Linked DNA regions of Homo sapiens: region 2 is linked to region 1. Evidence: fine-mapped expression QTL. Tissue or cell type: whole blood. Region 1 holds a variant in brackets; the other region holds the start of a gene. All regions are shown on one strand. Distances are from middle to middle.

The links. PIP is the estimated chance that this variant, and not a neighbour inherited with it, causes the effect.
Region 2: it holds the start of PIGT, and the variant in region 1 is fine-mapped to the expression of PIGT in whole blood (INTERVAL, PIP above 0.99). The same link has a PIP of 0.9 or more in rectum.

Annotation. Positions count from the first base shown.
Region 1 is chr20:45,381,630-45,389,816 of GRCh38, reverse strand. All of the region lies in intron 3 of SYS1-DBNDD2 (SYS1-DBNDD2 readthrough (NMD candidate)), which reads right to left. It also overlaps the pseudogene NDUFB4P10. Among named protein-coding and RNA genes, the nearest start is that of TP53TG5, 7.4 kb to the right of the region's middle. The variant G/A (reference allele first, on the strand shown) is at 3,497.
Region 2 is chr20:45,413,786-45,418,599 of GRCh38, reverse strand. PIGT (phosphatidylinositol glycan anchor biosynthesis class T) reads right to left here and starts at 2,459. Exons shown (of 12, transcript NM_015937.6): 1 at 2,257-2,459; 2 at 1,906-2,083. The coding sequence starts at 2,443. It overlaps LOC107985405 (a long non-coding RNA gene), which reads left to right and starts at 217. Exons shown (of 2, transcript XR_001754640.2): 1 at 217-386; 2 at 1,783-4,814.

The sequences.
Region 1 (8,187 bases):
ATGAAAAAAGATACACCATACAAAGATTAATTAAAAGAAAGCAGAGTTAGCAATTTCAATATCAGATGAAATAGACTGCTGAGCAAAGAAAATCACCAGGGCCAAAAAAAGATATTAAATGGGTCAAATCACAAAGAAGACATAGCAATCATACATGTGTACATACCAAACAACAGATCTTAAAAATCTATGAAACAAAAATTGGTAGAACTGAAAAAAAAAATAGACATCTACTATTAAAGTTGGAGACTTCAACACATCTCTCTCAACACTTGATAGAAATACTAGACAGAAGGGTGGGCATGGTGGCTCACACCTGTAATCCCAACATTTTGGGAGGCCAAGGCGGGTGGATCACCTAAGGTCAGGAGTTCAAGACCAGCCTGGCCAACATGGTGAAACCCTGTCTCTACTAAATATAAAAATTAGCCGGGTGTGGTGGCGGGCGCCTGTAATCCCAGCTACTCGGGAGGCTAAGGCAGGAGAATTGCTTGAACCCGGGAGGCGGAGGCTGCAGTGAGCCGAGATTGTGCCACTGCACTCCACCCTGGACGACAGAGCAAGACTCTGTCTCAAAAAAAAAAAAAAAGAAACACTAGACAGGAAAGCAGCAAGGATGTATAAGAACTTTAAAAAGCCATCAATCAAAAGAATCTAATTAATATTTAGACAATACTTCACATAACAATAACAAGATTCACATTCTTTTGAAATGCTTATGGAACACTCACCAAGACTATATCTTAAGTCACAGAATAAAAGTCAACTAAAAAAAATTTTTTTAAAGAGACAGCATCTTGCTCTATTGCCCAGGCCGGAGTGCAGTGGTGCCGATCATGGCTTACTGCAGCCTTCAACTCCTATCCTCAAGTGATCCTCCTACCGTGGCATCCAAGAGACTTGGGATTACAGGCATGAACCACTGCTCCCGGCCTCAAGGAATTTTTGAAAATCAAAATCGCACAGCATGTGTTCTGAGATCACAATGAAATCAAACTAGAAATCAATAACAAAAAGATAATAGGTAAATCTCCAAACATATGGAAATTAAACACCTCATTTCTGAATAATACATGAGTCAAGAGGCGCAGTTGTGCACTGGGTCACCAAGATGACTCTCCCAAACTATACTCCATCACACCTGGCCCCTCTGCCCATGACCCTCAATCCAGCTGAATATGACATACCTCCACAAACTGCAACCTGAGCATTTGGCCATAAATCTGGGTTTAAACAGGGGTACTTAATCAGCACAATGACCCTAACCAATGATGATTCATCGAGGGCTCATCAAACATCTTGGCTTAATTTGTTGGACTTGTGTAAGATCAGCACATGTCTATCCCAATTTCAGACCCATTATCAAATACTCATCCAGTAGCTCTATGTGGAATCGGATCCGGTAGGGATAGGAAAGAAAAGCTTATCCAGGAAGAAAAATTGGATCAAACATTTAACATCTCATATTAAGTCTAGCAATGACGATTTTATGTATTCCTGCTTAAATACACTTCTATTAATCCAAAAATCCCACCACATTTCTAAATAATACATGTGGGCTGGACGCAGTGGCTCACACCTGTAATCTCAATACTTTAGGAGGCCAAGGTGGGTGGATCACCTGAGGTCAGGTGTTCGAGACCAGCGTGGCCAAAATGGTGAAACCCCGCCTCTACTAAAAGTACAAAATTAGACGGGTGTGGTAGCATGTGCCTGTAATCCTAGCTACTCGGGAGGCTGAGGCAGGAGAATCACTTGAACTCAGGAGGCGGAGGTTGCAGTGATCCAAGATCACGCCACTGCACTCCAGCCTGGGCAACAGAATGAGACTCCATCTCAAAAACAAACAAACAAACAAACAAATTTCTAATATTGGTAATTTGTATCTTTCTTTTTCTAAAAAAAATTGGTTAACCTGGCTAGAGATCTGTTAATTTTATTGATAATTCAAAGAGACAGCTTTTGGTTTCACTGATTTTCTCTATCATCTTCTGGTTTTCAATTTCATTGATTTCTGCTTTGATTTTTATTATTTCCTTCTACTTACTTTAAGCTTAAATTGCTCTTATTTCTCTAGTTTCTTCTTTCTGAAGCTTAGATTGACTTTAGATCTTTCTTCTTCTCTAATATATGCATTTAATGCTATAAATTTTCCTCTAAGCATGGCTTTTGCTGCATCCCACAAATTTGGTAAACTATATTTTTCATTTTAATTTAGTTAAAAATATTTTTAAGTTTCTCTTGAGACTTTTTTTTGATCCATGTGCTACCTACTAGTCTAGTGTGTTGTTTATTCTAGAAATACCTTGGGGACTTTCCAGCTCTCTCTGTTATGGGTTTCTAGTTTAATTCCATTGTGGTTTGAGAACATACTTTTTATGAGTCTATCATTTTACATTTGTTCCAGTGTGTTTCGTGGCCCAGAATGTACTATCTCTTGAATACTCCATGTGAGCTAGATATGAATGTGTATTCTATTATTATTGTATTAGAATGTATATTCTATTATTGTTGGATGGAGTGCTCTATAAATGCCAGTAGATCAAGTTGATTGATGGTGGTATTCAGATAAAATATGTACTTACTGATTTTCTGCCTACTTGATTTATCAATTATTGAAAGAGGGTCGTTGAAGTCTTCAACTATAATGGGATTTGTCTATTTCTCCTTGGAGTTCTACCAGTTTTTGCCTCATATATTTTGGTATTCCATTGTTAGTGACATATACTATATGTGTCATATATCCACTCAAGATCAAAAATAAGGCAAGAATGTCTGTTCCCACCACTTTCATTCAATGTAGTGCTGGAAGTCTTAGCTAGTACAATAAGGGAAGAAAAGGAAATAAAAGACATACAAATTTAGAAAGAAAATACTTGCAAATCACACATCTTACACAGGACTCATATCTAGAATATATAAAGAACTTTCAAAACTCAAAAGTAAAAATACAGACAAACAGGTTGGGCACAGTGGCTCACACCTGTGCCCAGTGCTTTGGAAGCCGAGGTGGGAAGATGGCTTGAGGCCAGGAGAATTCAAAAGCAGCCTGGGCAACACAGCAAGACCCTGTCTTGAAAGAAAAAAAATTAGCTGGGCATGGTGGCAAGCGCCGGTAGTCCTAGCTACTTGGTAGGATCACTTGGGTCCAGGATTTCAAGGCTGCAGTGAGCTATGATCATGCCACTGCACTCTAACCTGGGTGACAGAGCAAGACTCTTTTTCTAGAACAAACATCCAAACAGTCTAATTAGAAAATGGGCAAAGGAAGTGAACAGATATTTCACCAAAGAGGATACAGAGATGGCAGATAAGCATATTAAAATGTTTGTTCATTTGTTTGTTTGTTTTTGAGACAGAGTCTTGCTCTGTTGCCCAGGCTAGAGTGCAGAGGCATGATCTTGGCTCCCTGCAACCTCCACCTCCTGGGTTCAAGCAATTCTCCTCCCTCAGCCTCCCAAGTAGCTGGGATTACAGGTGCATGCCACCACACCCG[G/A]CTAATTTTTGTATTTTTAGTAGAGAGGGGGTTTCACCATGTTGGCCAGGCTGGTCTCGAACTCCTGACTTCAAGTGATCCACCCGCCTCAGCCTCCCAAAGTGCTGGGATTATAGGCATGAACCACTGCACCCGGCCTAAAATGTATTAAACTTCAATAGCCATTAGGGAAATGTAAATTAAAACTATGGTAAGATATCATTACACACCTATTAAAACAGCTAAAATAAAATAGTGACCATTCTAAAAGCAAGTCAAAATGCAGAGAAGGTCTATCAATGTATGAACATTGCTGATGTTCTGGAAAATTGTTTGGCAGCATTCATACTCCTTGAAGGTTATTCCAGAGAAATGAAAATTATGTGTGGAGACAAAAACCTGCATAATAGCCCTAAATTGGAAACAAACATTCTTCAATGGGTGAATGGCCAAACTGTGTTATATGTAATAGCACTCAGCAAAAAAAGGGAAAAACTACTGATACAACTTAAGTGGATATAAAGGGCATTATATGGAAAAGCCAGTACAAAAGCCAATCTTGAAAGGTTACATACTATATCATTCCATGTATATAATATTTTCAAAATGACAAAATTATAGAGATGAAGTGGGACTTTTAGGGATTGGGGTGAGAGGAAGGAGGGGTGACTGTAGCTATGAATAGCATGAGGAAGCCTTGGGATAACAGAACAGTTCTATACTTGATTGTGATGGTGGTTACCTGAATTTATACATGGTTCTGATATTATACCAAAGGTATGTAAGATTTTCCCACCCATTGGAGGAAAATGAGCAAAGGGTACACAAAACCTCTATGTATATTTTTTGAAACTTTCTGTGATTTTTAAAGTACTATTGATACATGCAATAACTTGGATCTCAAGAGCATTATGCTGAGTGAAAAAAGCCAACTTCAAAAGGTCACACACTGTATGATTCCACTCATACAACATTTTTAATACCTTCACTTGCTTTTATTCATATACTATTCTTGAAATGACAACAATTATAGAGTAGATAATAAATTAGTGGTTTCAGGCTGGGCACGGTGGCTCACACCTGTAATCCCAGCACTTTGGGAGGCTGAGGCGGGTGGATCACCTGAGGTTGGGAGATCAAGACCATCCTGGCTAACATGGTGAAACCCCACCTCCACTAAAAATACAAAAGATTAGCCAGGCATGGTGGCACACGCCTGTAGTCCCCACTACTCAGGGGGCTGAGGCAGGAGAATCACTTGAACCTGGGAGGCGGAGGTTGCAGTGAACCGAGATTGTGCCACTGCACTCCAGCCTGGGCAACAGAGAGAGACTCCATCTCAAAAACAAAAACAAAAACAAAAAAACAAAAAACAAATTAGTGGTTTCCAGGGATTAGGTACTGAATGGAGGAGGGAGGTATAGATGGCACAAGAGAGATCCTTATGGTGATGAAACACACAAATGAGTGCATGTAAAACTGGTACAATCTGAACACGGTTTGTATATTGTACTACTGCCCATTTTATGCTTTTGATATTGTACTAGCTTTGTCCAGTGTTACCTCTGGAGGAAACTGGGAGAAAGGTACACAGGACCTTTCTATTTTTGCAACATCTTTGACTCTATAATCATTTCAAATTTTTAAAAAATCTTAAAAAGTAAAAAGAGGCCTTTGCATCCCAAAATTCTACAGGCAGGAAGCAGATTGAGAAAAAAACTCAACTGCAAATGCACAGAAAAAGGAAGGAATGACTCAGAACAATGAATCCAAAGGTGAATCAAAATCCTAGTAGGATTTTATGTAGAAATCAGTAAGTTGATTTTAAAATTCAAAGGAGAGAGGTAGTCTTTTCAAAAAAATCATGTTGGGGCTGGGCATGGTGGCTCACACGATGGGAGGCTGAGGCAGGCAGATCACTTGAGGTCAGGAGTTCGAGACCAGCCGGGTAACATGGTGAAGCTCTGTCTCTACTAAAAATATAAAAATTAGCCAGCTGTGTTGGCACACATCTGTAATCCCAGCTACTTGGGAGGCTGAGGCAGGAGAATTACTTGAACCCAGGAGGCGGAGGATGCAGTGAGCTAAGAGTGCAACACTGCACTCTACCCTGGGCAACAGAGAGAGACTCTGTCTCTGAACAAAACAAAACAAAATCCTGTTGGAATAATTGGATATCTATAAGCAAAAGAAGAACCTTAATCCACACCTTAGACTATATACAAGTTAACTAAAAAATAGATCAAATATCTAAATTTAAAAAACTAAAACTATAAAATGTTTAAAAGAAAATATAGGCATAAGCCTCTGTGACTTCAGGTTAGGCAAATATTTCTTAGATATGACACCAAAAGCATAGCCCATTTAAAAAAAGTGATAGTGGCCAGGTGTGGTGGCTCATGCCTGTAATCCCAGCACTTTGGGAGGCCAAGGCAGGTGGATCACGAGGTCAGGAAATCGAGACCATCCTGGCTAACATGGTGAAACCCCGTCTCTACTAAAAATACAAAAAATTAGCTGGGTGTGGTGGTGGGCGCCTGTAATCCCAGCTACTCAGGAGGCTGAGGCAGGAGAATGGCATGAACCCAGGAGATGGAGCTGGCAGTGAGCCAAGAGAGCGCCACTGCACTCCAGCCTGGGTGACAGAGCAAGACTCCATCTCAAAAAAAAAAAAAAAAAAGTGATTAAAGTGATTGGACTTCATCAAAATTAAGAATCTGTTCTTAAATAGATAGTTAAGAAAACGAAAAGATAAACCACAGGCTAGTGGAAAATACTGGCAAGTCATATATCTGATAAAGAGATCCTGAATTAGTGAAGAACACTCAACACAATTATATTTAAAAGAAACAACCTAAAAATGGGCAAAAGACTTGAACAAAAACTTCATCAAAAAAGACAGATGGCAAATAAATACATGAAAATATGTTCAACATTATTCGTCATTAGGGAAATGCAAACTAACACTACTATAAGATATGATGACATACCTACTAGAGTGGCTAAAAACAAAACAAACAAATAAAAATCTAACAGTACCAAATACTGCCAAGAATGTGAGTCAGCTAGACCTTGAATATATTGCTGGTGGAAATATAAAATGGTACAGCCACTTTGGAAAATTCTGGCAGTATCTTTTAAAGTTAAACATATAATTACCATATGATCCAGTAATCCCACTCCTAAGTATGTATCCAAGTGAAATAAAAACTTGTATTCCCACAAAAACCTGTACACAAATGTATTTAGTAACTTTATTCATAATCACTGAAAACCAGAAACTAGCCCAGATGTCCTTTAATGATTACACATACAAACTGTGGCATATTTATAGAATGAAATACTACCTAACAATGAAAAAAACCCAAATTATTGACATACCCAACATGTGCAAATCTTAAGTGAAAGAAATACAGATTCAAAGGGCTGCATACCGTATGATTCCACCTATATGGTGTTTTGGAAAAGGCAAAGCTATAAAGACTGAAAACACACATCAGTTTGTTGCCAGGGCTGGGAGTGGGAAGAGGAGTTAACTACAAAGAGGTGGCTTGAGGGAACTTAGGGGGGTTATGAAGCCATTCCATATATTGACTGTGGTATTCTACACTAGTATGCATTTGTCAAAACTTAAAGAACTGTATACTAAAAAAGGTAAATTTTACTGTATATAAAATATATCCCAGTAAACCTAACTAAAGAAATTAAAGAACAAAGTATGAGAGGAAATAAAACAAAAGAGTGGAACTCCCACCCATTAAGATGGCTACTATCAAAGAAACAGAAAATACCAAGTGTTGGCAAGGATATAGGGAAACTGGAATCCTTGTACATGGTTGGTGGGGATGTAAAATGGTATAGCCACTGCGAAAAACAATATGGTGGTTCCTCAAAACATTAAAAAGGGAATTACCATATGATTCGGCAGTTCCACAATTCCACTTCTAGGTATATACACAAAAGCTGAAAGCAAGGCCTTGAAGAGATGTTTGTATATCTTTGTTCACAGCAGCATTATTCACAATAGCTAACAGGCAGAAGAAACTCAAATGTCCATCGATGAATGAACAGAGAAATAAAATGTGGCCTATACATACAATGGAATATTATTCAGCCTTAAAAAGAAATTCTTTTTTTTTTTTTCTGAGACAGAGTGCTGTTCTTTTGCCCAGGCTGGGGTGAAGTAGCACAATCTTGGCTCACTGCAACCTCCACCCTCCAAGTTCAAGTGATTCTCCTGCCTCAGCCTCCCAAGTAGCTGGGATTATAGGTGCCCGTCACCATGCCTGGCTATTTTTGGTACTTTTAGTAGAGATGGGGCTTCACCGTGTTGGCCAGGCTGGTCTCGAACTCCTGACCTCAGGTGATCCACCTGCCTCGGTCTCCCAAAGTGCTAGGATTACAGGCATGAGCCACCGTGCCCGGACAAGAGAAGGAAATTCTGACACATGCTACAACATGGAAGACATGTTAAGTGAAATAAGGCAGTCACAAAAAAAAGACAAATATTGTATTAGTCCACTTATATGAGGTTCCTAGAGTAGTCAAATTTATAGGGACAGGAAGTAGAACAATGGCTGCCACGGGCTGGGGGAGGTAAAAATGGGCAGTTATTATTTAATGGAATACAGAGATCCAATTCCATAGGATAAAAAAAGTTTAAAGATGGATATCCATGATGGTTGTACAAAGAGAAGGTACTTAATGTCACC
Region 2 (4,814 bases), 30 kb before region 1:
CCTTCCTTGCAAGCCTTTGCTAACTTCTTTCTGCCTACCTTCATGATCCGGCTCCAGTGCTTACCTCCCCTCCACGAAGCCTTTCCTGCCCTCCTTAAGCACAGTCTCCTCTGTGCAGTCACGGTTCTGACCATCCAAGCATCTTACTAGGTCCCTCCTGGGAGATGGCTAGGTGGCAGCAGCATCGTGTCCTGACCACCTTTTCTCCCTAACTAGGCTGTAAGCAACTTGAGGACAAGGACCAGTCTGGGTCATCTATGTACTTCCCCTGACACCATGGAAAGCGCCTCATGTATCAGAGCTGAAATGAGCTCACTGATCTTCCTTGAATGTGCTGGGCTGGGCAAAACAATGCATACTACCCTGTGTATACTCTGGGAATAAAGGTAAGTCCTGATTCTACTATCATGGTGAGAAGTCTTATATCCAAAAAAGCTCACTGAACATGGGAAAAACAACTGTTCTAGGATTTCATAAAAACATCAAATTAAATTAATGTTCTTTTCTTGGAGAAATATCAAAAGAGATTTGCTCTCAGTAATAGAGAAAGCATAAAACTTAATAAGCACTAGAAAGAATTCTAAGCATTTGCTCCACATTTCAGGCAATTACGGGCTGAGGGAAGACAGTGACAGCAGAGTAGACAGGAAAGGGTAGGGGAGCCAGAGTTGAGGCAAGAGAGAAAGTCTTGGCAAGCTGGGGAGTTACTGCTTATTCCTTATTCCTTAGTGTTGTCCAGGAGCTTTTGATAATTCTATGTTCAGAGCTTTTCAACTGCTCCAATCCTTAAGCCTCAAATAAAAATGGCAAACTTGAAGCCGGAAAGCTCTACTCAAACCATAAACATGCTTCATTTGGTATGCACAACATTGACCCGCACAGCACTCAAAAAATTTTTAAATTACTTGCTGATATTTGAATTTGCCAATTTTCACATTAAATTCCAGATTTCTGGTATCTCTTGAAAAATGAGGCCAGGTGTGGTGGCTCTTGCCTGTAATCCCAACACTTTGGGAGGCTGAGGCAGGAGGATCGCTTGAACCCAGGAGTTCGAGACCAGCCTGGGCAATATAGTGAGACCTTGTTTCTACAAAAAATTTTTAGAAACATTTGACTCTGACCACATTAGGCCTCTATTCCCACATGGCAACAATCCATAGAAGCTGAGTGGCAGAGCTGTCCTCGTTAGAATGTCACACAAACTCTCTAGCCTGCCACAATTCCTGCTGCTCCTTTTTATTGCCCTAAAACTTGTTATATCATACTTGCACTATTGATTTCTTATAGTGGGATTAAGAGGAAAATGAGATATATTTCTCATTCCTGTGTTTGTCAATTTTAAAAATACCTTTATTCATTCCTTACCTGTGTGGCCCATGTAGACCTGTTTGCAACCACTGCACAGAAAGGTTCTATTCTAAACAGGATAGCCACAGCAGCCACTGGGAAATAGCGGTTTGTAGTAGGCACAGTAACTAGACCTGCCCCCTCCCAAACAAAAGCAGTTCCTCTAACACTGTGATGTAGCATCCTGTTGGCCAGTTGTAACCCACAGATATGTTATGGTTGGCTTTCGTGGTATTTATTATCATTTAAAAAATATTAATGAATGCCTTTTAAAAGGTTATCCAGTTGCCAGTTTTCTACTGCCTTACCTCCAAATAAGCATTAATTGTTTGCTATTTGCCTCTCCAGGGATATGCATGTGCTACCTCAGGTCTGAAAGTTTTAGGATTGGGAAGTTTATTCATCTGTGGTAACATTTCTTACTTCCAATGCCAGCTCTACCCCCATGGAATCGCTGCCTACTGGAAGTGCTGTCCCCAAGAGCAGTGGCAGGATGACAACACTCTCCCAGCCACATTCCCTCCATGGCCTGCAACAGGGCCCAAGGTGTGCACTCACTCAGTGACAGTGTCTTGGAACCAGACCCACAGCTCTGCACCTGATGGGGCCTGCAGGAAGGGTGGCCCCCAGTATCGGGTCCTCCAAAAGCCTTGTGTGAATGACAGGTGCAGCTCCCGTAGAGAATACTTGGAGATCAGCTGCCCCAGGGCTTTGGGAAAGAGCCTGTAATGGGACACTGGGGAAACGGGAGCAGGTGAGTGACGATCCCCACCTCGTCGGGGTCCACACCCAGGATCCCGAACTCTACCCAGGAATTAGGCCCCGCCCCCAAAGTTTGCCTTCATCCCACGGCCGGCCAGCCAGCAGGCACTACGGAAATCTTTCCCTGGTCAGATCTCGCGCCCTCACCTCCTTCCCGCTGAAGCTCCGAATCCCAGCGCGTGCGGAACTGGAATGTGGCGGCTACGTCCCCGGAAGGCAGCGGGGTGATGACAAGTTCCTCCCGCAGGCTGTCGCGTGGGGGTTCTGCAAGGCACCAGCCGCCGGGCCCCAGGAGCAACAGGACGAGCAGAGCAAGCGGCATAGCCGCCGCCATGCCTGCGGCTACTTCCGCCTACCCAGCGGCGCTCGGCCCCATGAAAAGCCGGTATCCAATAAGAAAGGCGTGTGAGAAGTGACTTCCGCTGTCGTCCCGGAAACCGGGATGCGGTTATCAGAGCGACCGCCTGCGCAGGTCGCGAAGATTCCCTCAGAGCTGGTGGGTCTAAGGGGGTACTGGGAGGACACGAGAGGGAGTAGGCAGGGCGAGTAACCAGCTTGAGGCCGCACCTAGTTCATGGCGTATTCCACCCACCAGGAAATGCTTAATAATATGAAGCTCCTTCACTGCCATTTTACCCATTTGATAGTTGAGGAAACATTGACTGAAAAAGATCAATTACTTTTGGGAAAACCATTGTGGTTTTAATTTGCATTTCCCAAAGTAAGAGGAACCTCCTGCCCCTCTTAGCTTCTAGTGTCTCCATTTGCTGCAAAACCCCCAAATAAGTGGTTCTTTTATTACGAAAATGTTCAAACAAAATTGAAAGAATGAGCACCTGTTACAATAAACCTATTTTCCACCACCTAGATTCTACTATTTACATTATACTATACTTGTACTTTACCACATATTTGTCTATACATCCATCATTCCATCTTGTGTTTTGGTGCACTTCAAAGTAAATTGCAGACATTAGTACACTTTCCTTTAAGTAGTTAAGCATGCATATAATTAACTAGAGTTCAGTATTCGATTGCATTTTGATGTAAAATTCACATACAGTGAAATGCACAAATCCAAAGTACACATTCACTGAGTTTTGACAAATGCACACACCTATGTAACCCGAACTCCTATCATGATACAGAACATTCCTAAAACCCCAGAAAATTAGCAATACCCTTTCCTAGTCAATCCCTGCTCCTCTATCACCTTCCAGAGGCAGTTAGTACCCTGATTTTTTCCCACAATAGATTAATCTGTTCCAGAACTAAATATAAATGAAATCATATAGTATGTATACTGTGTAAGGCTTTTTTTTTTCTCATGGGAAGAATGTTTTTGAGAATCATCCATGTTCTTGCATGTATCCACAATTCTTTTTATTACTGCGTAGTATTATTAATTTATCCATTCAACTCTTGATGGGCACTTTTAAAGTTTTTGGTTATTATTAACAAGGCTGCTGTCTGTGCAAGCTCCTTTGTAGACGTATATTTCTCATATCCTTTGGCCAGGTATTTAAGAGTGGAATTGCTGGGTCAGAGAGCAGGTGTATGTTTAATTTTATAAGAAACTGTCAGACCTTTCTCCAAAATGTATCATTTTATGTTTCCATAAACTATGAGTCTCCATTGTACCACATCCTGGTCAGCATTTGAAGTTTCTAATTTTTTGTACTTTTTAGTTTTGACCACTTGGGTATGTATGTAGTGTTTGCTCATTGTGGTTTTAATTTGCATTTCCCTGGTAACTAAAAATGTTAAGCATCTGTTCATGTGCTTATTTGCCATTTATTTTTTAATTTAATTTTTATTTTTTTGTGAAAGGTCTGTTAAAGTCTTCTGCACCCTCACCCCTTTGTTTACTGGCTTGTCTTTTTATTGACTTTTTCGGAGTTCCAAAGTTAAAGTCATGCTTTAGTTTTTCCACCTGCCCTATGGGAAACACATTCATGAAGGATTTCATGAACAGTCTCTTGGTGACACTCATGACCACACTTCTAGAAAGAGCCAATTTGGTGTCAGGCAGGTCTGCCAAGATATGCGCCAACCAACCAGACATTTCCAGAAAGGAAATGTCAGAAAGATGTCTTTATCTCATTATGCCTTCATTCTGCCTGCATTCAGTGTTCCTGCCCCATTAGACACGAAATATTAGGAAGGCCATGGGCTTAGATGTCAGAAAGACAGGAGTCCAAATCCCTATGCCAGCCTTTAATCCATATGAGCATGATCAACCCAAGTGTCACTTTTCTTCATTTGTATAATGAAGAAACCTACTTTCAAGGTTGTTGTTAAGATGAGAAATTATGTACATGTAGGATATGGAATGTAGCAAGTGCTTAATAGTAACACTCAACCCTGTCACCTAGGCACTAATATGTAAATGTAGATAATAGTGCCTAAGTGATAGGGTTGCTTGAGTGTTATTATTAAGAAGTACATAAACTAAGATAATAAAGATTACAATGAGTGATGGAGCTAGGACTATAGTCTACACTATCAAACCTCAAAATAATACTTTTTTAAAGGTAGCTGCCATCATTATGACTATTTTGTACTTCTCTGTTTTCCTTTTGAAATTGCCCATCTCCATCATTCAGGACCCAGCCACCTCTAGTGAAGACTTACCTTCTCCTCCTCTAGTGGTCTACAGGCTTCATGTACTTCTGCTACATCTCTCATCACATTGTTTCCATTAC